Linked DNA regions of Homo sapiens: all the other regions are linked to region 3. Evidence: fine-mapped QTL for protein levels in blood plasma. Region 3 holds a variant in brackets. A gene starts in each other region. All regions are shown on their reverse strands.

Region 1 (8,178 bases), not on the chromosome of region 3:
AAGGCAGGCAGATTGTTTGAGCCCAGGCATTTGAGACCAGTCTGGGCAACATAATGAGACCCCCATCTCTACTAAAAATACAAAAACTAGCCAGGTAAGCGCCTGTAGTCCCAGCTATGGGAGGCTGAGATTGGAGGATTGCTTGAGCCTACAAGGCTGCAGTGAGCTATGATCATGCCACTGCACTCCAGCCTGGGTGACAGAGTGAGACCCTGCCTTTAAAAAAAAGACCAGGCGCGGTGGCTCACGCCTGTAATCCCAGCACTTTGGGAGGCTAAGGCAGGTGGATCACAAGGTCAGGAGATCAAGACCATCCTGGCTAACACGGTGAAACCCTGTCTCTACTGAAAAATAGAAAAAATTAGCCAGGCGTGGTGGCGGGTGCCTGTAGTCCCAGCTACTCGGGAGGCTGAGGCAGGAGAATAGCATGAACCCAGGAGGCGGAGCTTGCAGTGAGCCAAGATCCTGCCACTGCACTCCAGCCTGGGTGACAGAGTAAGACTCCATCTCAAAAAATAAAAAATAAAAATAAGAGTGTCCTAATAAATATATAAACCTACAATGTCTATGATATGAATAGTGCTCACTTAATACAATGTCCTTATGCAGTGCTCAACCTAAACAACCATATAGCAGTCCTGAGGCCTGCCCCTCCCGGCTGTGTGCTGCTGGCTTATCCCTGCCCCTCTCTGGGCCTATCTGACAATGGGATGAGGTCTCTGGGCCCTGAGCAGGGGGCTGAGGCAGGGAGGGGGGTCACCCAGTGCTCACCATGAGGAACTCAGTCTGCGGCTTGTCCGCCACCTCCTCCAGGACCTTCTCCATCTGCCGCAGCTGCTCCAGGTAAGAGTTCAGGCTCCCCAGCTCCCGGCGCAAGGCGACCCCTGCCTCACCCCGTACACGCTCTGCCTCGCGGTCCAAGGAGCCCTCCAGTGCAGCCAGGAACACCCGCATCTTGCCCAGCTGCTCCCCCACGGCCCCCCGGAACTGACGCACTGTCTCCTGCAGGGATGGGGCAGTGATTGAAGGGATAAAGACTCTTGGCTGGAGACCCCTAGCCTGGCCCCCAGCCCTCAGACATGGCCCTGTGAAGTCCTCACCTCCACCTCCACCAGCTGATGCTCCAGCACAGCCACACTCTTCTCCTTGCGCATGCATGCCTCCTGCAGCTGCAGTTTCTGCTGTGGCAGCTGTGTCTGGGGGTCGAGGCATGGAGAAGTGATGGGGATGCCACCCACCCAAAACCCACACCTCCCATCCTAAACCTGCCCTCTGTGGCTCAACCTCAATGCCAGCTCCTCCTCCAGCCATCTTCCCATCCCCAAACCCACTTACATGCCTCCCAGCCCCAGCCAGTGCTACTCCTGAGGTCCGAATGCTTCCCCTGCCCCTTGTCTATTTTGGTGCGGTTTTTTATTTATTTATTTTGGTGTTTTGTTTTGAGACAGGGTCTCACACTGTTGCCCTGGCTGGAGCAGTGGCATGATCACAGTTAACTACAGCTTCAACTTCCCAGGCTTAATTGACCCTCTCACTTCAGTCTCCCAAGTAGCTGGAACTATAGGCACACACCACCGTGCCCAGCAAATTTTCTGATTTTTTTTTTTTTGAGTTGGAGTCTCGCTCTGTCACCCAGGATGCAGTGCAGTGGCACAATCTCAGCTCACTGCAACCTCCACCTCCTGGGTTCAAGCGATTCTCCTGCCTCAGCCTCCCAAGTAGCTGGGACTAATTTTGGTGCACCACCACGCCTGGCTAATTTTGGTATTTTTAGTAGAGACAGGGTTTCACCATGTTGGCCAGGCTGGTCTCAAACTTCTGACCTCAGGTGATCCACCCACGTCAGCCTCCCGAAGTGCTGGGATTAGACATGAGCCACCACTCCTGGCCATGATTTTTTAAAATATTTTTGTAGAGACAATCTCACTATATTGCCCAGACTGGTCTCCAACTCCTGGCCTCAAGCAATCCTCCCACCTCAGCCTCCCAGCATGCTGGGATTACAGGCATGAACCGCCACACCCCCAGCCCCTTGTCTGTTTTGTTGACCCCTCCCTGGCCTTGCCTTCCCTGATCCCCTCTGCTCAGCAGTCAGCCCCATAGCACAGGTCTTTGCGAGGATGACAAACATCAGTGTGGTTTGGTCTCTCCCACCAGACAGGCAGGCACAGAGCTTGGCACACAACAGACCTCAGGGGGTACATGAAGGATATATGAAAGAAGAAAGGCAACCTACCCCTACTCCTGGGCTTCCTCTCTTACTTAAAAGCAGAACATCAGCCTCAGTCAGCCTGTCAGCCTGACCACCAAGTCAGCCTGCCTGTACACACATGGGCTTGGAGTAGGGGGCAGGAAATTTAATTAAAATGTCCCCTGCTGGCCGGGCGTGGTGGCTCACACCTGTAATCCCAGCACTTTGGGAGGCCAGGGCGGGTGGATCACGAGGTCAGGAGTTCAAGGCCAGCCAGACCAAGATAGTGAAACCCCATTTCTACTAAAAATACAAAAATTACCTGGGCGCTGTGGCAAGTGCCTGTAATCCCAGCTACTCGGGAGGCTGAGGCAGGAGAATCACTTGAACCAGGGAGGCGGAGGTTGCAGTGAGCCAAGAATGTGCCACTGCACTCTAGCCTGGGCGACAGAGCAAGACTGCATTTCAAAAAAAAAAAAAAAAATGTCCCCTGCACAGACCAACCATTCTGTGGTCTAGATCTTACCCAAGACCTCAAATGCAAATATGCAAATATAGGAGAGCTCCCAATACTCCTGCCAAAGCCATTTTTTTTTTTTTTTTTTTTTTTTTTGGAGACAGGATTGCCTAGGCTGGAGTGCAGTGGCAGAATCACAACTCGAACTCCTAGGCTCAAGCAATCCTTTTGCTTCAGCCTCCCGAGTAGCTGGCACTACAAGCATGAGCAACCATGCCAGGCTACAAAGCCACTTCTTTGCTGGGAGGTGCCTGACCATGGAATCAGTTCCATTCCTGCCTCAATGACTTGCAACCTGTTTCCTCCTCTGCAGATTGGGAACAGCAATCCCCACCTCAACAATTTGGCGCCCCCACTCTCCCAGGGGAAACTGGGGGACCCTCTAGGCGGTGTTTGCAGAGTCCCCTCCCAGCAGGAGCCACAGGGTTGAATAGGAGCTGCCAGATCAGTCTCCTTCCCGGGACATCCCCGGGGGCGGCAGCTCCACCTGCTGCAGGAAAGGTAGGACCTGATGGCTCCAGGCCCTCGGAGGCTCAGAGGCGCAGGGCTGAGCCATGGGAACGAAGCGCGAGGCCATCCTGAAGGTGCTGGAGAACCTGACACCGGAGGAGCTCAAGAAGTTCAAGATGAAGCTGGGGACGGTGCCGCTGCGCGAGGGCTTTGAGCGCATCCCGCGGGGCGCGCTCGGGCAGCTAGATATCGTGGACCTCACCGACAAGCTGGTCGCCTCCTACTACGAGGACTACGCAGCCGAGCTCGTCGTGGCCGTGCTGCGCGACATGCGCATGTTGGAGGAGGCCGCACGGCTGCAGCGGGCTGCGTGAGGGCCACTCTGAGCTGGTACGTGATCTCGGGACCCAACCCCGCTTCCTCGCCAAGGACCCACGCGTCAGGTCCCGCCCAGAGCCTTCCTGTTCCCCTCCTTCAGGGTCCCTCCTGGGGTCCTCCCTCAGACCTCCGGCCAGCCCCTCCCGGGGGCGAAGGGCTGGGCTGCCGCGAACCCTGGTGGGCTGCATCTCGCCCCACTGCCCCCTTCCAGGCTCCTGGGCTGCCTGGGCCCTGTTCCGTTTCATGGGTTCTGTGCTTTCTTCGCAGATAAAGACGGGCAAGGTTGGGCGAGGTTGGGTTTTTTTTGTTTGTTTGTTTTTTGTTTTTTTTTTAGCGGCAGCAAGATTTATTGCAAAGAGCAAAAGAACAAAGCTTCCACAGCATGGAAGGGGATCCGAGCGGGTTGCCCTGAGGTTGGGGTCTTAAGCACAGGTGTGCTGGGATGGGAGGGGTCCCGGGAGGAGGCTCCTGCCCTGAGCTAGGAGACCACCAGCTAGGACTGGGCTGAACTGGGCCAGGCAGGACTGAGAGGCTGGGTCCCTGGGAAGTCTGGGGGCCTCGAATACCAACGAAAGGACGGTGGTCTACCCCTTCTAGGAGGCGGGTCAAGGCAAAAGGAGTAATGCAACGCCTGTGAAGCCAGCCCCACGCGCGCACCAGTCGCGTAAGACAACAGCAGTGTCTCCACCTCGGGGACCAAGGACGCCTCCGTGCCTCCAGACCCCGCCTCCTCCAGCCCCTGCACCTGTCATTTATTCTTCCACTGCCCAATAAATATTCATGGCAGACTTTACTGGGGCTGCGCGCACACGTGCCCGCCGGTAGCTATACGTGTGTGCTTTTGCCACACGGATGACACGCACCAGCCAGTGTGCGTTCGTCTCTATTTGCCTCTGTCTGGGTGTCTCTGCTGGGTACTTCGGGACGCGCACAACTGCGTGTGGGCTCCCAAGGCTTTCGGGACTTCCAGCTCCACCCAGAAAAACATCCTGGACGGGGCTCTCGGTGCCACCCTGGGCCCGCACACATAAGTGCAGATCCCGGCTGCCTAGCCCTTACAGTCTCCCTTCTGGTGAGGCCCCGCCTGGGGACCGTCAGGCCAGCCCAAGTTCCGCAGCTTCAGGGGTGCGTGGGCCTCCGCTGAGCACAAGGGGACAACCCTGCCCCGGCCGCCTGGCTCGGTCCCGAACGCCGCGCCTCCAGTCCAAAGTGGGCCAGCGCCGAGCAGGGAGCCAGCCCGAACGGCCCACCGGGTGCAGGAATGCGAGCGTGGGCCGCAGGGGCTGGTCAGTCCCTGCTCCGCCTGGCTCCGCCCGGCCCATCAGACCCGCCCTGGGGCTCCGCCCGCCCATCTCCAGTTTCCTCTAGGGACTAAGGCCGGGAAACCTACGTTTGCTCAGCGCCCTTATCGCCAGGCTCCATCCCTGCGCGGCTTTCCTCTGCCAGCCCCGCCTTAAGCTCCTCAGACCCTCTTTCCTGGCTGCTTCGCCCCGCCCCCGCCCCCCGCAACTCCAGGAGCTCGTGAGCCTCTCTAGAGACTCAGAATCCAAATCACTGCAGCGACCTCCCCATCGGCCCCGTGCCACCGAACAGCCCCTCCGACCACGATGCGCGCGGATCCCGCACCTTGAGGCGTGCGTGGGCCTCGGCGGCAGGCAGGAGGCGATGACCGCGGTGCGAGCCGAGTGAGGCGCACACTCCGCACACCAGCGCGCGGTCCTGCTCGCAGTAGATGCTCAGCGGGTCCAGGTGCTCCTCGCAGTGGCCCTGCGGCACCTGGGCCAGCCCCTCCACCAGGCGCGCCAGCTGCAGGTTGGTGCTGAGTGCCTGCGGCCGCGTGGGGGCCTGGCAGCAGGGGCAGAGAACGGTGCCATCCGCCGCCGGCTCCCCGGCCACGCGGCCTAGGCAGGCGCGGCAGAAACTGTGGCCGCACTCGGCTGTCACGGGCGCGTCGAACAGCTGCAGGCACAGCGGGCAGGACAGCTCCTGGTGCAGGAGGCCGGGCGCAGCCGACATGGCGGGCCTGGGTGGAGGAGGAGTAGGTTAGGGGGACCCCGCGGCGCCGCGCTCCCGGCCCAGCCCTGGCCCAGCCCTAGCCCAGGCCGGGCCCGCCGCCCCGCAGGGAGAAGCCCCAGCCTGTAAAGACCTCACATCCTACACTGGATGGGACTCTGACGGCCAAGGGGAAAGAGGAACTCGGTCTCAGGCCCAAAAGCAGCCTCCACTGCAATTCTCAGCTCCAACCCCAAAAATATGCCCTATCAGTCAACCCCAGTTCCTGAACACAAGCCCAGATTCTAGCCCACTGTCCTTGCCCTCGCCTTAGCCCCAGGCCTCAGCCTCTGACCTTAGTCCCGGACCCAAATTCTCCAGAGCCCCCACTCCGAGACTCCCCTCCCTCACTTTACCAAGATACCCAGACCTCCCCTCCCCCTCTCTCCAGCCCACGGGACTCACAGGTCTGGTTGGAGATCTTAGGCTGAAAGAGTCTCGAAGGAGGACCGGTCAGGGTTGAGCTTAGCTGGACTGGGGTCAGGGCTGGGTCCAAGGATCTGAGACAAGCAGCAGGCTCCAAGCAAGGACAGGGACTCACAGGGGCAGCTGGCAGTGGACACCACGCGTGATGGGCACACAGTGCTCAGCGGAAGACCCTCCCAGACTGAGCCATGGCCCCAGGACTATATTTAGCTGCCCTGCCCAATCCCTCCCATCACTTCCGGAAACCGTTCTAAAAGTGAGGGCTGAGTAGTCCCTGGGCACACATCACATGACAGGGCCACCTGTCTTGGCCCATCCACTGTTCTCTCCCCGGCCTGCCTGGAGTCAGAGCTCAGAGCCAGCGGGGAGCCAGGGCCTTTCACACCACAGAAAAGACAGAAAATTGAAGGGGGTCTGCCCTTTCTCCCCCCACTCCCACCTCCACACTCTCCAGCTCCTTCCTCCTTGCTGGCAGCCCCTCCCCAGCCTGTCACCCACTCATTCCCCAAGTTTATGGCTGACCAAGGTCACCCTGGCAGGATTACCCCACCTGCAGGAGGGCAGGACCTCACCCCACCCTGAAATGTTTTCTTCCTCCAGAGCTGAGGGGAGGGTCTTTTCCACTTTGGTCTCTCTAGTACACCCAGGACAAGCCTGGGACAAAGTAGGCCTCTCTAAATGCTTGGAGAATGAATGATAGAGAGACATTGAACAAATGAATGAACTGAATCCAGAGCCTGCAGCCCAGAACTCAATTCTGCCCTGGTTCCTGTATGTGTATCTTTCAAATCTCAGCTGAAATTTCATTTAAGTGGCGCTGGGATAACTGGCTAGCCTTATGCAAGAGAATGAAACTGGACCCCTACCTTTCACCATATAAAAAAAATTAACTCAAGATGGGTTAAAGATTTAAATGTAAGACTTCAAACCATAAAAATCATAGAAGAAACCGCAGGAGAAATACTATTCTGGATATCAGCCTTGGTAAAGAATTCTTGACTAAGTCCTCAAAAGCAACAAAAACAAAAATTGTTAAGTGGGACCTCATTAAACTAAAGAGCTTCTGCACAGCAAAAGCAAAAGCAACTATCAACAGACAGACAACTGAAGAATGGAAGAAAGGCCAGGCGCGGTGGCTCACGCCTGTAATCCCAGCACTCTTGGGAGGCCAAGGCGGGTGGATCATGAGGTCAGGAGATCGAGACCACAGTGAAACCCCGTCTCTACTAAAAATACAAAAAATTAGCCGGGCGCAGTGGCGGGCACCTGTAATCCCAGCTACTCAGGAGGCTGAGGCAGGAGAATGGTGTGAACCCGGGAGACGGAGCTTGCAGTGAGCCGAGATCGCGCCACTGCACTCCAGCCTGGGGTACAGAGTGAGACTCCGTCTCAAAAAAAAAGAATGGAAGAAAATATTCACAAACTATGCATCCAACAAAGATCTACTATCCAGAATATATAAAGAAACTAAACATTTCAACAAGCAGAAAACAACCCCATTAAAAAGTTGGCAAGGGCCAGGCACAATGGCTCACACCTGTAATCCCAGCACTTTGGGGGGCCCAGGCGGGTGGATCACTTGAGGTCAGGAGTTTGAGACCAGCCTGGCCAACATGGTTAAACTTCGTCTCTATGAAACATACAAAACTCAGCCGGGTGTGGTGGCAGGTACCTGTAATCCCAGCTACTTGGGAGGCTGAGGCAGGAGAATCGCTTGAACCCGGGAGGCAGAGGTTGCAGTGAACCGAGATCGCACCACTGGACTCCAGCCTGGGTGACAAGAGCGAAACTCCAACTCAAAAAAAATAGCTGGGCATGGTGAAGAACACCTGTAGTCCCAGCTGCTCGGGAGGCTGAGATGGGAGGATTGCTTGAACCTGGGAAGCAGAGGTTGCAGTGAGCCAAGATCATGCCATTGCACTCCAGCATGGGCAACAAGAGCAAAACTCCGTCTCAAAAAAAACAATAAATATTAAAAAAAAGAAAAGAAAGAAATTTCATCTAGAATAAAAACCAAAGTGCTAACTGTGGCTTACAAAGCCCTATCTGCTATGACCCCATTAATCACTCTGACTCTTTTATCACCCCTTTCCCCATTGATCACTCGGCATCAGGGACTTTGCACTTACGGTCCCCTCTGCCTGGAACACTCTCCAACCCAGGT
Region 2 (8,178 bases), not on the chromosome of region 3:
GCTGGCTTGTCTTGAACTCCTGACCTCAAGTGATCCGCCCGGCTTGGCCTCCCAAAGTTCTGGGAGTACAGGCGTGAGCCACCACGCCCAGCCAAAGATCAAGATTTTAATGTCAAGAGCATCAGCATAGAACTTTGCAGTTATCCAGTTTCATTTAGAGTTATACAGCTTCCTTACAAAAGGGAGGAACTGGCAAATCAACGAAGCGGATTGCTGTTTTAAGCCAGTACAGAAGTAAAAGATTGACGACAATGACCCTCCAGTATAACAACATTTAGTCCCAAGAATGATGATGTCCTTCATTCCACCTTTTGTACATACCTCAAAAGCCACAGTATTTCACCATACCCACTTACCAAGCAAACTCCCCATCTTTTGTCAAAGTAAAGTGCTACATTTACTACATAATTTCTTTATTAGGAACTGAAGATGTTTAACACTGTGGTCATGTTTTTATTGGGTGTGGGTTCTGTTTGTTTGATGTATTACTTATGAGACTGCACAAATATTGAATGTTCTACTTCAACTCTATTTTTTCCAGAAGCCCTATTATTTGTAGTGAGCAAAACTCTGTAACCTAATGATTTTCAGGAATATATATTCCACGTTTATGAGAAATATATCTTCCCTTTCATTCCCTGTCTTAGACTCCGCCATTTTGGTTCAAGGCTTTCCACTTTCTTGAAGCACATAAATAAATGATGCCCAAAAAAGACAATGAATGTGAAATCTGGTTAATGTAATTCACAAAATAACAGATTGAAGAGACAATCCATATATTTATTTCAATTGATGAAGAAAAGGCATTTGATAAAAATTCAACATCCTTTCATGAGAAAAACTCTTAGCTAACTAGAATTAAAAGGGAACTTTATTAACCTGATTCAGCAGAACATGGGATGAATTCCACAAGGTCACATGGCATGGGCTAAGGAATGCCTTTACTGGGTGAAACCAGTGAGCCAAGGATCAGCACTCCTAAGCATGGGATACTCCCAGCAGACACTCCCATCATTACTCGCTTCAGCCTACATTGAGGTGTTCTGAGGCCATGCACAGCTATTAGTCAGTGAGGCAGGACAGCAGCGTTTCTCAACATCAATACTATTGGCACTTGGAGACAGATCATTGTTTGTTGTGAAAAGCTGTCTTGTGCATTGTTAGATATTTAGCAGCAACCTCAGCCTCTAGACACTGGATGTGAGAAGCACATCTGTCCCAGTTGTGACAATCAAATATGTCTCCAGACATTGCCAAAGTCCCCTGGGGACAAAATAACCACCTTTTGAGAAGGTAGTTTACTACTACAAAACAGGAACATTGTCCCCTGCAATTTTACCTTCTTATAATATGAATATGAGAAGTTCCTTATGGGGCTTGCTTCCTAGACAGTCTAGGTTTCTAGGAAACCTAAATGTAAGCCTAAATGTATTTATATATATACATATATAAACATATTTTTGCTATGTATATATGTATATATATATGTAAACATATTTTTGCTATTGAGTTGCAGTTCTTTATATATTTTGAAAATTAACCCCTTATCTGGTAGGTAGTTTGCAAATATTTTTCCCATCTCACAGGTTGCCTTTATTACTAAATATTTTACATGTTATTGCTTTTAACGTATTACATTTTTCTAACCAATATTTCTAGTGTATAGAAAGCAGCTGACTTTTATATATTGATTTTTGTGTCAGCTAATCTTGAAAAATTGTCTAACTCATGATGTATCTGTAGTTTCTTTTGTGTTTTTATTATTGCATCATTTGCAAACAATGGCTTTTCTCGTCTCCCATTCTAATACTTATTTCTTTTCTTTTTCATTATATATATGTGTGTGTACATATGCATATATATATATATATACACACACATATAAATATAAAGACCCAATTAAAAGTGAATAAGACTTAAACAGACATTTCTCCAAAGAAGATATACAAATGGCCAACAGGTATGTGAAAAGATACTCAACATGTCTAATCATCAGGAAAATGAAAATCAAACCATAAGATCACCTCATACCTGTTAGGATGGCTTTTATTTTAAAAAGAAAAGAAAAAGAAAACAAGTACCGGTGAGAATGTGGAGAATTTGGAACCCTTGTGCACTGTCAGTGAGAATTTAAAGGAGTATAGCCACTACGGAAAACAGTATGGAAGTTCTTCAAAAAATTAAAAATAGAGCTATCACATGATCCAGCAATCCCCCTTCTGGGTATTTATCCAAAAGAATTTAAATCAGGATCCCAAAGAGATATTTGCACCTGCAAGTTCATTGCTGCAATATTCACAATAGCCAAGAAATGGAAACCTAAATGTGCATTGACCCATTGACAGATAAATGAGGGAAGGAAAAAGATTATATACATGTACATATATATGCATACCATGGAATATTATTCAGCCATAAAAAAGAAGAAAAGTCTATCTCATGCTACAACATGGGTGAACCTCAAGGACATTATGCTAAGCAAAATAAGCCAGTCACAAAAGGACAAATATGGCATAATTCCACTTTTATGAAGTGTCTAAAGTAGTCACTTATAGAAGCAGAAAACAGAATGGTGGTTCCAAGGGTCTGGGGGTGGGGGGAATAGGGAGTTGCTATTCAGTGGGTTTCAGTCATGCAAGATGAAAAAGTTCTAGAGACCTACTGTATGACACTGTGCCCACAATTAACAATACTGTTAGTATGCACTTAAAAATATGTTAAGAGGTCATGTCTTATAGTATATATTTCTTACCACAATTTTTTAAAAAAACACGGTGTTGAGCAAAGCATGCAAAATACAAAAGAATACTTAGGCCATAATTACGCTTACACGAAATTAAACAACACGTATCACTAAGCAAGCCATAGCAAGAGAGCAAAACTTTAAAGGAAAACATGAGGATGATTAACAGAAAGTTCAAGATAGTGGTTACCTCTGAAGTAGGGATGGTAATGTCCTATTCTAAATTGATAGGTTCATAGGTGTTTATTATTCTTTTTCAAAAGGTATAGAATGTTGATTACATTCTTTCATATGTAGGATTTATTTTACAATACTTTTTTTAAAGAAGTATCATCAACAGTCAATTACAAATGACATTTTGGGGAGAACCGGAGAAACAAATATGAACTGGCTATGAGATGACATGCAGAAACTATTAATTATCTTAGATATGATAATGGCTTTGTGATTATATTGAAGAATATCCTTATTCTTAGAATTTGCATGCTGATGTATTTAGGAAATAGGAACATAATGTATTCAATTTCATTTCAAATATTTCAACAAATGTAGCTATAGGTATTCTAAAATATCCCAAACTATTAATAATTGTTAAATCCAGTTGTAGGTATACAAGTATCATTGTTCTGTTATTTCAATTTTTCTGTATGTTTAAAAAGTTCATAATAAAAAGGTGGAGGAGGAAATAGCCAATACATTCCAACATTCTAGTATTTGTTTATGAACTTCCCAGATTCCATCCCTGGTATCCAAATGATCTGAGTCCAGTGATATGACTGGTGAGATTGTAACCAAAGATTCACCACCTAATAAGGAGTAGGCTCACTTCCAGGAATGGAGGTATCCTCCCTGCCTCCACTTAACCCCAACTCAGTCCCTTCCACACTTCAGGATGTGGAACACCCCAAACCCAAATCTTTGCATTACTCAGGGGTCCTGTTAGTAAATGACAGAAATCCAATTCAGACCAGCTTAGGCAGAAAGGTGAATGTATTGGGTGGTAACATAACCCTGGGTATGAGTGGGGCTGATCTCAGGAAAAAGTTTAGTGAAGGACTAGATATCCTCTAAATTACTCCCTGTCCATCTCTCATCTCTTTTTATCAGCATCTTAGATTTATCTTCTCAGAATTTCTCTCTCACCAGGGCCAGGACCAAATTTCTGGAGTTTCTGGGCTTATATCTGCAACTTTTCCAACAGGAAGGATTTTCCTCCCTTTAGTACTCATTCAAAGAAAGGACCCCAAAAGCCTGGTCACACACACACACACACACACACACACACACACACGCACACACGTCCATGTCTTCTTCCAAATCCAGGAATTTGGGGGATGCAGGGGCAGAGGAGGGAAAACAAATCCTATGAAGATGATACAGTATAATTATTATGCTCATTGTATGAATGAGGAAACGGAGGCTTAGAAAGGTGAAGCTGCTTTCAAAGTCACACAGCTGGTGACAGGTCCAAAATCTGCTTTCCTCCAGGCCACATGAGATTGGCGGGGGGCAGGAGCACACGGTGCTGGAGCGCAAGGCTGAGAGTGAATGTTCAGGACAGACATTTTAAGCACTGCCATTCAGATTCTTCCTTGGGGTGAGGTGAGAACTGAGAACAAGTCCGGGGCAGCACAGGAAGGAGGGAAGATTTTGGTCCCAGGTGAATCAGGCATGAAGAGGGACTGATAGAGAACACGGTGGAGTTGAGGAAGTCTGGCCCTGCCACTGCCTCGTGTGTGAACTTGAGTAATTTCATGCCCTTTCTGTGCTTCTTTTCCTCCTTCCATAAGATAGTTTGGCCCTGGTGGCGCCTAATGGTCAATCACGTGTCCATTTCTTCTCCTCGTGTGAAGAACGAGGGTCGCTCTTGGATTTCTTCATCTATTCCAGTGCAGAGCCTTAGGGAAAGCCCCAAGTCCCTCCTCAGAAGGGGCCATTTCCAAATAGAGCTGGGAAGTGCAGCCTCCCTTGCCATTTTGAGCCTTCAGCTCCACCCACTGGCATGCCCAGCAGGAACACTATAAAGCCAGGCTCAGCCCAGCTCCCAGCCAAGCACCTGCCTGGCAACATGGGGTCCAGCAGCTTCTTGGTCCTCATGGTGTCTCTCGTTCTTGTGACCCTGGTGGCTGTGGAAGGAGTTAAAGAGGGTGAGCAGACATGGTGGAGCTGGGTGGGGCTGGGCTGGGGAGAGGTCCTGAGGGGCCCTCTGGGGCTGGAGTTCTCATATCACCTTGTGGCTTCCTCCACTAGGTATAGAGAAAGCAGGGGTTTGCCCAGCTGACAACGTACGCTGCTTCAAGTCCGATCCTCCCCAGTGTCACACAGACCAGGACTGTCTGGGGGAAAGGAAGTGTTGTTACCTGCACTGTGGCTTCAAGTGTGTGATTCCTGTGAAGGAACTGGAAGAAGGTAAGGAGACCTGCCTCCCAGGGCTGGGGCTGTCCCTTCCCTGCCTCTATCTGACCCATGAAAGTTCGGAGGAATTAGTCCCTTTAGCTGGTGTGGGGAGGGATGGCTAAAGCTGGCAGGGCCCTCAGAGACCACCTAGTCTGAACATCTCCATTGTCCAAAGGAGGAAACAAGGATGAAGATGTGTCAAGGCCATACCCTGAGCCAGGATGGGAGGCCAAGTGTCCAGGCTCCTCCTCTACCAGGTGTCCTCAGAAATGATGCTGGGTCCTTTCTACCTCTGGGGGTCACTCTCACTTGGCACCTGCCCCTGAGGGTCCTGAGACTTGGAATATGGAAGAAGCAATACCCAACCCCACCAAAGAAAACCTGAGCTTGAAGTCCTTTTCCCCAAAAAGAGGGAAGAGTCACAAAAAGTCCAGACCCCAGGGACGGTACTTTCCCTCTCTACCTGGTGCTCCTCCCTAATGCTCATGAATGGACCCCTCATGAATGAAACCAGTGCCCTTATAAGAGACCCCAAAGAGCTGCCTTGCCCTTCTGCAATGTGTGATCACAGCTAGAAGGCACTGTCAGAGAAGAGAAACTGGTCCTCACCAGATGCTGAATCTGCTGGTGCCTTGATCTTGGACTTCCCAGCCTCTAGAACTGTAAGAAATAAATATTTGCTGTTTATAATCCACCCAGTCTATGGTAATTTGTTATAGCAGCCCAAACCTGCTAAGACAACCTAATAGTAAAAAAAAAAAATCCTATTCAACATTATCAAAGTGAATAAAATATAAAATACCTACAAATAAATCTAGAGATGTACAGAAATTTTCTGAAAGGAAACCCTAAAACTTTATTAAATGACATTTTAAAAGATCTGGATAAATAGACTAAACTTTTCTACAGAATAAATAAATAAATGTTTTTTAAAAGATATGCTCTTCCCCAAGCAGGAAGCCTCCTCAAAGTGTTCACCTTGGTCAGCATAATTTATACCTGAAATATAATTAAAATTAAAACCCACTGGGTTTTGCAAACCCTAATGAAATAATTGATTCTGGCAATGATTATCCATGGCTTCTGAATATTTACAGGGTGCCATTTCATCACCCTGTGGTATATTTACAGTTTGTAAGAGGGAAAACACAAGTTTACAACTTGAGGATTCAGGTACACACCGAAAACACATTAATCTGTCTCCACAATGCTAAAAATGGGTAAAGCGGACCTCCGTTCCTCCTGAGGTGATGCAACACAAAACACACAGCATCATTCAAGAAGGGCTCCTGCCAAGACAGTTGAGCATGAACCTCACCAAGCCTCTACAGCTAGCATTCATCTATGGGAAATGTGAAGGACAAAGAAGATGAAAGACATCACAGGGAAGCAACATGGGACATTCTAAAGAACAATTTGTCTGTTTTGTTCAACAAGTCAATAGCATGAAGAAGAAGAAGGAGGGAGGAAAGGAGAATAAAAAAGAGTTGGAGAGATTGTTCTAGATTAAAAGAAACTTCAGATACATTACAGCCAATGCAATATGTGCACCAACAACCATAGAGTCACTTTTGAGACAATAAGAAAAACAAGATGCAAATAGAATATTAGATGATGTTAAGAAACTGCAGTTAATTTTCTTAGGTGTAACAGTAGGATTGTCATTATGTGAGAAAGTGTCCTTAGTTTTTAGAGATGCACACTGAAGTATTTAAAGGTAAAGTATAAGATCGGTTGGATTTACTTTAAAATACTTCAGCCAAAAAAGGGGTGGGGATATGCATGAAGGAATTCTTGTAAAATGGTTCATTGTTGAATCTGGATGATGGGTATGTAGGCTCCATAAAAGTATTTGCTGTTCTTTTGTGCATTTTTGAAAACATTTTATGATAAAAACAAGGGTTTGTTTTTGCAACTTAACAAAATGATCATTAGGTTCACATGGAACAATAAAATACTTGTAACCTGGAAAATTGAAAATGTAGACTAATGAAGGGTAATGGATACCACCAGTCACTAAAACATATTATGGAGCTACAACAATTACAGCCACAATACAAGCATACCTTGTTTTATTGTGCTTTGCAGTCATTGCATTTTTTACAAATTGAAGGTTTGTGGCAACCCTGCACCAAGCAAGTACATTGGCTGCATGTTTCCTATAGCATGTGCTCACTATGTGTCTTTGTGTCACATTTTGGTAATATTCACAATATTTCAATTTTTTTCATTATCATTACATCTGTTATGTTGGTCTGTGATCAGTGATCTTTGATGATACTTTCCTAATTGTCTCAGGGTGCCATAAACTGTGCCCACATAAGACAGTGAATTTGATCGATAAATGTCACATATGTTCTGATTTCTCCCCCAACCGGCCATTCTCTGTTTCTCTCCCTTGGAACACAACAATGCTGAAATGAGGCCAATTAATCATCTTACAGTGGCCTTTAAGTGTTTAAGTGAAAAGAAGAGTCATGTCTCTCACTTTAAATCAAAAAAAGCTAGAAATGATTAACCTTAGTGAGGAAGGCATGTTTGAAAACCAAGAAAGGTCCAAAGCTAGGCCTCTTTTACCAGTTAGCCAAGTTATGAATGCAAAGGAAAAGTTATTGAAGGCAATTAAAACAGCTACTCCAGCAAACACACAAATGGTAAGTGAAACAGACTTATTGTTAATATGGAGAAAATGTTAGTGGTTTGGATAAAAAAATCAAAACAGCCACAGCATCCCCTTAGCCAAAGCCTAATCCAGAGCAAGGCCCTAACTTTTTTCAATTCTATGAAAGCTGAGAGGTGAGGAAGCTGCGTAAGAAAAGTTTGAAGATAGCAGAGGTCGGTTCACAAGATTTAAGGAAAGAAGCCATCTCCATAACATAAAAGTGTAAAGTAAAGCAGCAAGTGCTGATGGAGAAGCTGCAGCAAGTTCTCCAGAAGATCTACACAAGATAATTGAGGAAGGTGGCTACGCTACACAACAGATTTTCAATGTAGATGAAACAGTCTTTTATCGAAAGAAGAGGCCATTTAGGAATTTC
Region 3 (8,178 bases):
GGATCCCACTATGAGCAATCGGTAGATAGTTCTGGACACTCAGGGTCTCATCACAGCCACACCACGTCCCAGGAAAGGTCTGATGTCTCCCGTGGGCAGTCAGGATCCAGAAGTGTCAGCAGACAAACACGTAATGAGAAACAATCAGGAGACGGCTCCAGGCACTCAGGGTCGCGTCACCATGAAGCTTCCTCTCGGGCCGACAGCTCTAGACACTCGCAGGTGGGCCAGGGACAATCATCAGGGCCCAGGACAAGCAGGAACCAGGGATCCAGTGTTAGCCAGGACAGTGACAGTCAGGGACACTCAGAAGACTCTGAGAGGTGGTCTGGGTCTGCTTCCAGAAACCATCTTGGATCTGCTTGGGAGCAGTCAAGAGATGGCTCCAGACACCCTGGGTCCCATCACGAAGACAGAGCCGGTCACGGGCACTCTGCAGACAGCTCCAGACAATCAGGCACTCGTCACACAGAGTCTTCCTCTCGTGGACAGGCTGCGTCATCCCATGAACAGGCAAGATCAAGTGCAGGAGAAAGACATGGATCCCACCACCAGCTCCAGTCAGCAGACAGCTCCAGACACTCAGGCATTGGGCATGGACAAGCTTCATCTGCAGTCAGAGACAGTGGACACCGAGGGTACAGTGGTAGTCAGGCCAGTGACAGTGAGGGACATTCAGAAGACTCAGACACACAGTCAGTGTCAGCACAGGGAAAAGCTGGGCCCCATCAGCAGAGCCACAAAGAGTCCGCACGTGGCCAGTCAGGGGAAAGCTCTGGACGTTCAGGGTCTTTCCTCTACCAGGTGAGCACTCATGAACAGTCTGAGTCCACCCATGGACAGTCTGCGCCCAGCACTGGAGGAAGACAAGGATCCCATTATGATCAGGCACAAGACAGCTCCAGGCACTCAGCATCCCAAGAGGGTCAGGACACCATTCGTGGACACCCGGGGCCAAGCAGAGGAGGAAGACAGGGGTCCCACCAAGAGCAATCGGTAGATAGGTCTGGACACTCAGGGTCTCATCACAGCCACACCACATCCCAGGGAAGGTCTGATGCCTCCCGTGGGCAGTCAGGATCCAGAAGTGCAAGCAGAAAAACATATGACAAGGAACAATCAGGAGATGGCTCTAGGCACTCAGGGTCGCATCATCATGAAGCTTCCTCTTGGGCCGACAGCTCTAGACACTCACTGGTGGGCCAGGGACAATCATCAGGGCCCAGGACAAGCAGGCCCCGGGGATCCAGTGTTAGCCAGGACAGTGACAGTGAGGGACACTCAGAAGATTCTGAGAGGCGGTCTGGGTCTGCGTCCAGAAACCATCATGGATCTGCTCAGGAGCAGTCAAGAGATGGCTCCAGACACCCCAGGTCCCATCACGAAGACAGAGCCGGTCATGGGCACTCTGCAGAGAGCTCCAGACAATCAGGCACTCATCATGCAGAGAATTCCTCTGGTGGACAGGCTGCATCATCCCATGAACAGGCAAGATCAAGTGCAGGAGAGAGACACGGATCCCACCACCAGCAGTCAGCAGACAGCTCCAGACACTCAGGCATTGGGCACGGACAAGCTTCATCTGCAGTCAGAGACAGTGGACACCGAGGGTCCAGTGGTAGTCAGGCCAGTGACAGTGAGGGACATTCAGAAGACTCAGACACACAGTCAGTGTCAGCCCACGGACAGGCTGGGCCCCATCAGCAGAGCCACCAAGAGTCCACACGTGGCCGGTCAGCAGGAAGGTCTGGACGTTCAGGGTCTTTCCTCTACCAGGTGAGCACTCATGAACAGTCTGAGTCCGCCCATGGACGGACCGGGACCAGCACTGGAGGAAGACAAGGATCCCACCACAAGCAGGCACGAGACAGCTCCAGGCACTCAACGTCCCAAGAGGGTCAGGACACCATTCATGGACACCCGGGGTCAAGCAGTGGAGGAAGGCAGGGATCCCACTACGAGCAATTGGTAGATAGATCTGGACACTCAGGGTCTCATCACAGCCACACCACATCCCAGGGAAGGTCTGATGCCTCCCATGGGCACTCAGGATCCAGAAGTGCAAGCAGACAAACTCGTAACGATGAACAATCAGGAGACGGCTCCAGGCACTCAGGGTCGCGTCACCATGAAGCTTCCTCTCGGGCCGACAGCTCTGGACACTCGCAGGTGGGCCAGGGACAATCAGAGGGGCCCAGGACAAGCAGGAACTGGGGATCCAGTTTTAGCCAGGACAGTGACAGTCAGGGACACTCAGAAGACTCTGAGAGGTGGTCTGGGTCTGCTTCCAGAAACCATCATGGATCTGCTCAGGAGCAGCTAAGAGATGGCTCCAGACACCCCAGGTCCCATCAAGAAGACAGAGCTGGTCATGGGCACTCTGCAGACAGCTCCAGACAATCAGGCACTCGTCACACACAGACTTCCTCTGGTGGACAGGCTGCATCATCCCATGAACAGGCAAGATCAAGTGCAGGAGAAAGACATGGATCCCACCACCAGCAGTCAGCAGACAGCTCCAGACACTCAGGCATTGGGCACGGACAAGCTTCATCTGCAGTCAGAGACAGTGGACACCGAGGGTACAGTGGTAGTCAGGCCAGTGACAATGAGGGACATTCAGAAGACTCAGACACACAGTCAGTGTCAGCCCACGGACAGGCTGGGTCCCATCAGCAGAGCCACCAAGAGTCCGCACGTGGCCGGTCAGGGGAAACGTCTGGACATTCAGGATCTTTCCTCTACCAGGTGAGCACTCATGAACAGTCTGAGTCCTCCCATGGATGGACGGGGCCCAGCACTAGAGGAAGACAAGGATCCCGCCATGAGCAGGCACAAGACAGCTCCAGGCACTCAGCATCCCAAGACGGTCAGGACACCATTCGTGGACACCCGGGGTCAAGCAGAGGAGGAAGGCAGGGGTACCACCACGAGCATTCGGTAGATAGCTCTGGACACTCAGGGTCCCATCACAGCCACACCACATCCCAGGGAAGGTCTGATGCCTCCCGTGGGCAGTCAGGATCCAGAAGTGCAAGCAGAACAACACGTAATGAGGAACAATCAGGAGACGGCTCCAGGCACTCAGGGTCGCGTCACCATGAAGCTTCCACTCATGCCGACATCTCTAGACACTCACAGGCAGTCCAGGGACAATCAGAGGGGTCCAGGAGAAGCAGGCGCCAGGGATCCAGTGTGAGCCAGGACAGTGACAGTGAGGGACATTCAGAAGACTCTGAGAGGTGGTCTGGGTCTGCTTCCAGAAACCATCATGGATCTGCTCAGGAGCAGCTAAGAGATGGCTCCAGACACCCCAGGTCCCATCAAGAAGACAGAGCTGGTCATGGGCACTCTGCAGACAGCTCCAGACAATCAGGCACTCGTCACACACAGACTTCCTCTGGTGGACAGGCTGCATCATCCCATGAACAGGCAAGATCAAGTGCAGGAGAAAGACATGGATCCCACCACCAGCAGTCAGCAGACAGCTCCAGACACTCAGGCATTGGGCACGGACAAGCTTCATCTGCAGTCAGAGACAGTGGACACCGAGGGTACAGTGGTAGTCAGGCCAGTGACAATGAGGGACATTCAGAAGACTCAGACACACAGTCAGTGTCAGCCCACGGACAGGCTGGGTCCCATCAGCAGAGCCACCAAGAGTCCGCACGTGGCCGGTCAGGGGAAACGTCTGGACATTCAGGATCTTTCCTCTACCAGGTGAGCACTCATGAACAGTCTGAGTCCTCCCATGGATGGACGGGGCCCAGCACTAGAGGAAGACAAGGATCCCGCCATGAGCAGGCACAAGACAGCTCCAGGCACTCAGCATCCCAATACGGTCAGGACACCATTCGTGGACACCCGGGGTCAAGCAGAGGAGGAAGGCAGGGGTACCACCACGAGCATTCGGTAGATAGCTCTGGACACTCAGGGTCCCATCACAGCCACACCACATCCCAGGGAAGGTCTGATGCCTCCCGTGGGCAGTCAGGATCCAGAAGTGCAAGCAGAACAACACGTAATGAGGAACAATCAGGAGACAGCTCCAGGCACTCAGTGTCACGTCACCATGAAGCTTCCACTCATGCCGACATCTCTAGACACTCACAGGCAGTCCAGGGACAATCAGAGGGGTCCAGGAGAAGCAGGCGCCAGGGATCCAGTGTGAGCCAGGACAGTGACAGTGAGGGACATTCAGAAGACTCTGAGAGGTGGTCTGGGTCTGCTTCCAGAAACCATCGTGGATCTGTTCAGGAGCAGT[C/A]AAGGCACGGCTCCAGACACCCCAGGTCCCATCACGAAGACAGAGCCGGTCACGGGCACTCTGCAGACCGCTCCAGACAATCAGGCACTCGTCACGCAGAGACTTCCTCTGGTGGACAGGCTGCATCATCCCATGAACAGGCAAGATCAAGTCCAGGAGAGAGACACGGATCCCGCCACCAGCAGTCAGCAGACAGCTCCAGACACTCAGGCATTCCGCGTGGACAAGCTTCATCTGCAGTCAGAGACAGTAGACACTGGGGGTCCAGTGGTAGTCAGGCCAGTGATAGTGAGGGACATTCAGAAGAGTCAGACACACAGTCAGTGTCAGGCCATGGACAGGCTGGGCCCCATCAGCAGAGCCACCAAGAGTCCGCACGTGACCGGTCAGGGGGAAGGTCTGGACGTTCAGGGTCTTTCCTCTACCAGGTGAGCACTCATGAACAGTCTGAGTCTGCCCATGGGCGGACCAGGACCAGCACTGGACGAAGACAAGGATCCCACCACGAGCAGGCACGAGACAGCTCCAGGCACTCAGCGTCCCAAGAGGGTCAGGACACCATTCGTGGACACCCGGGGTCAAGCAGAAGAGGAAGGCAGGGATCCCACTACGAGCAATCGGTAGATAGGTCTGGACACTCAGGGTCCCATCACAGCCACACCACATCCCAGGGAAGGTCTGATGCCTCCCGTGGGCAGTCAGGATCCAGAAGTGCCAGCAGACAAACTCGTAATGACGAACAATCAGGAGATGGCTCCAGGCACTCATGGTCGCATCACCATGAAGCTTCCACTCAGGCGGACAGCTCTAGACACTCACAGTCCGGCCAGGGACAATCAGCGGGGCCCAGGACAAGCAGGAACCAGGGATCCAGTGTTAGCCAGGACAGTGACAGTCAGGGACACTCAGAAGACTCTGAGAGGTGGTCTGGGTCTGCTTCCAGAAACCATCGTGGATCTGCTCAGGAGCAGTCAAGAGATGGCTCCAGACACCCCACGTCCCATCACGAAGACAGAGCCGGTCACGGGCACTCTGCAGAGAGCTCCAGACAATCAGGCACTCATCATGCAGAGAATTCCTCTGGTGGACAGGCTGCATCATCCCATGAACAGGCAAGATCAAGTGCAGGAGAGAGACATGGATCCCACCACCAGCAGTCAGCAGACAGCTCCAGACACTCAGGCATTGGGCACGGACAAGCTTCATCTGCAGTCAGAGACAGTGGACACCGAGGGTCCAGTGGTAGTCAGGCCAGTGACAGTGAGGGACATTCAGAAGACTCAGACACACAGTCAGTGTCAGCCCACGGACAGGCTGGGCCCCATCAGCAGAGCCACCAAGAGTCCACACGTGGCCGGTCAGCAGGAAGGTCTGGACGTTCAGGGTCTTTCCTCTACCAGGTGAGCACTCATGAACAGTCTGAGTCTGCCCATGGACGGGCTGGGCCCAGTACTGGAGGAAGACAAGGATCCCGCCACGAGCAGGCACGAGACAGCTCCAGGCACTCAGCGTCCCAAGAGGGTCAGGACACCATTCGTGGACACCCGGGGTCAAGGAGAGGAGGAAGACAGGGATCCTACCACGAGCAATCGGTAGATAGGTCTGGACACTCAGGGTCCCATCACAGCCACACCACATCCCAGGGAAGGTCTGATGCCTCCCATGGGCAGTCAGGATCCAGAAGTGCAAGCAGAGAAACACGTAATGAGGAACAGTCAGGAGACGGCTCCAGGCACTCAGGGTCGCGTCACCATGAAGCTTCCACTCAGGCTGACAGCTCTAGACACTCACAGTCCGGCCAGGGTGAATCAGCGGGGTCCAGGAGAAGCAGGCGCCAGGGATCCAGTGTTAGCCAGGACAGTGACAGTGAGGCATACCCAGAGGACTCTGAGAGGCGATCTGAGTCTGCTTCCAGAAACCATCATGGATCTTCTCGGGAGCAGTCAAGAGATGGCTCCAGACACCCCGGATCCTCTCACCGCGATACAGCCAGTCATGTACAGTCTTCACCTGTACAGTCAGACTCTAGTACCGCTAAGGAACATGGTCACTTTAGTAGTCTTTCACAAGATTCTGCGTATCACTCAGGAATACAGTCACGTGGCAGTCCTCACAGTTCTAGTTCTTATCATTATCAATCTGAGGGCACTGAAAGGCAAAAAGGTCAATCAGGTTTAGTTTGGAGACATGGCAGCTATGGTAGTGCAGATTATGATTATGGTGAATCCGGGTTTAGACACTCTCAGCACGGAAGTGTTAGTTACAATTCCAATCCTGTTGTTTTCAAGGAAAGATCTGATATCTGTAAAGCAAGTGCGTTTGGTAAAGATCATCCAAGGTATTATGCAACGTATATTAATAAGGACCCAGGTTTATGTGGCCATTCTAGTGATATATCGAAACAACTGGGATTTAGTCAGTCACAGAGATACTATTACTATGAGTAAGAAATTAATGGCAAAGGAATTAATCCAAGAATAGAAGAATGAAGCAAGTTCACTTTCAATCAAGAAACTTCATAATACTTTCAGGGAAGTTATCTTTTCCTGTCAATCTGTTTAAAATATGCTATAGTATTTCATTAGTTTGGTGGTAGCTTATTTTTATTGTGTAATGATCTTTAAACGCTATATTTCAGAAATATTAAATGGAAGAAATCAATATCATGGAGAGCTAACTTTAGAAAACTAGCTGGAGTATTTTAGGAGATTCTGGGTCAAGTAATGTTTTATGTTTTTGAAAGTTTAAGTTTTAGACACTCCCCAAATTTCTAAATTAATCTTTTTCAGAAATATCGAAGGAGCCAAAAATATAAAACAGTTCTGTATACCAAAGTGGCTATATCAACATCAGGGCTAGCACATCTTTCTCTATTATCCTTCTATTGGAATTCTAGTATTCTGTATTCAAAAAATCATCTTGGACATAATTAATATTATAGTAAGCTGCATCTAAATTAAAAATAAACTATTCATCATATAATACTGTTTGTCTCTTGTATTCTTATTTGTCATAAACACAAATTACATACTTCCCCATGGCCAGAATTAGATGTCTTCTATATCATTGGAAAGCTATATGACCATAAAGCAGATACATTACATTCAAAATAACAAGTAATTAATAATGAAAGACAAAATTTAATCAAGGCCTATATTTTTCTCCAACATAATCACTGTCCCACAATCACATGCAGGAAAAAAAAAAACATGCTCTGCTCAATCATGAATATCACTATTATTAATATGGAATTATCAACTTAGGTGGTGATTAAGCCATGTCAAAGGCAGATCACGAAACAGGAATTACTGACCATAGATCCTTCTTCCAAAGACACTAGGAGATGCTTTGCAATGTAGACTAGTTGGAGCAGAGAAGTTGTGCTGATATATCCTGAAAAAGGGAAAAGAATTAAAAAGAAGTGTCCTCCTGACCTGGAAGGAAAATATTTGTATCTTTGTAATTTAAGCAAGTAGATGAAAATGCTGAAAAAAGAATAGTAAAAATATGAATGAAGTTCTACCAGTAGAAGGAATATGCTTCTGTAAGAATCCTACCCAAATTTTCATTCCCATAATATCAGACTAGAAGTGATATGTAGGTCAGCGATCACATTTTGCAGATGAGTCTATTACACAAATAATCCACACCAAAGTAGCACTTAGATCTCAAGTCTCCAAATCTGCTTTTAGTGGTTTTATAAAAGCACTTCCAAAAAGCTGCCTTTATTGAACTTACACTTGAGTAAACCAAGATAAAGTGACACTGATTGTCAAAGTTACAATAATACCCAATAGGTGCAGGGACTGAATGAAAAGCAACAAACAAGCTCGTTTTTCTAATTAGCCTCAAACAATAGTCTATATGTGTTCTCCACAAGCCACTTGAAGATGGCATTTCCTTCCCACCAGTGT

Direction of the effects. Alleles are on the strand shown, and positions count from the first base shown. The strength of an association depends on the size of the effect and on how common the allele is.
In carriers of allele C in region 3, the plasma level of the protein whose gene starts at base 3,156 in region 1 tends to be lower than with A alone (weak association).
For the plasma level of the protein whose gene starts at base 4,794 in region 2, allele A in region 3 goes with a higher level than allele C (moderate association).

Evidence for each region. PIP is the chance, under the fine-mapping model, that this variant and not a neighbour inherited with it causes the effect. Protein levels are from antibody-based Olink assays in UK Biobank. Linkage for the fine-mapping came from a reference panel and not from the study's own genotypes, which makes the PIPs less certain.
Region 1: PYDC1 starts here. The variant in region 3 is fine-mapped to the plasma level of the PYDC1 protein (UK Biobank, PIP above 0.99).
Region 2: it holds the start of WFDC12, and the variant in region 3 is fine-mapped to the plasma level of the WFDC12 protein (UK Biobank, PIP above 0.99).

What each region holds. Positions count from the first base shown.
Region 1 is chr16:31,212,113-31,220,290 of GRCh38, reverse strand. It overlaps PYDC1 (pyrin domain containing 1), which reads left to right and starts at 3,156. Exons shown (of 2, transcript NM_152901.4): 1 at 3,156-3,548; 2 at 4,134-4,329. The coding sequence starts at 3,263. The coding sequence ends at 3,532. TRIM72 (tripartite motif containing 72) reads right to left here and starts at 6,172. Exons shown (of 7, transcript NM_001008274.4): 1 at 5,994-6,172; 2 at 5,163-5,559; 3 at 1,101-1,196; 4 at 772-1,002. The coding sequence starts at 5,552. RefSeq lists enhancers at 3,021-3,935, 4,851-5,765, 5,766-6,681.
Region 2 is chr20:45,121,081-45,129,258 of GRCh38, reverse strand. It overlaps WFDC12 (WAP four-disulfide core domain 12), which reads left to right and starts at 4,794. Exons shown (of 3, transcript NM_080869.2): 1 at 4,794-4,890; 2 at 4,994-5,152; 3 at 5,316-5,834. The coding sequence starts at 4,812. The coding sequence ends at 5,413.
Region 3 is chr1:152,301,233-152,309,410 of GRCh38, reverse strand. It overlaps FLG (filaggrin), which reads left to right. Exons shown (of 3, transcript NM_002016.2): 3 at 1-7,246. The coding sequence ends at 6,711. The region is part of intron 3 of CCDST (cervical cancer associated DHX9 suppressive transcript); the gene reads right to left. Among named protein-coding and RNA genes, the nearest start is that of FLG, 20 kb to the left of the region's middle. The variant C/A (reference allele first, on the strand shown) is at 4,265.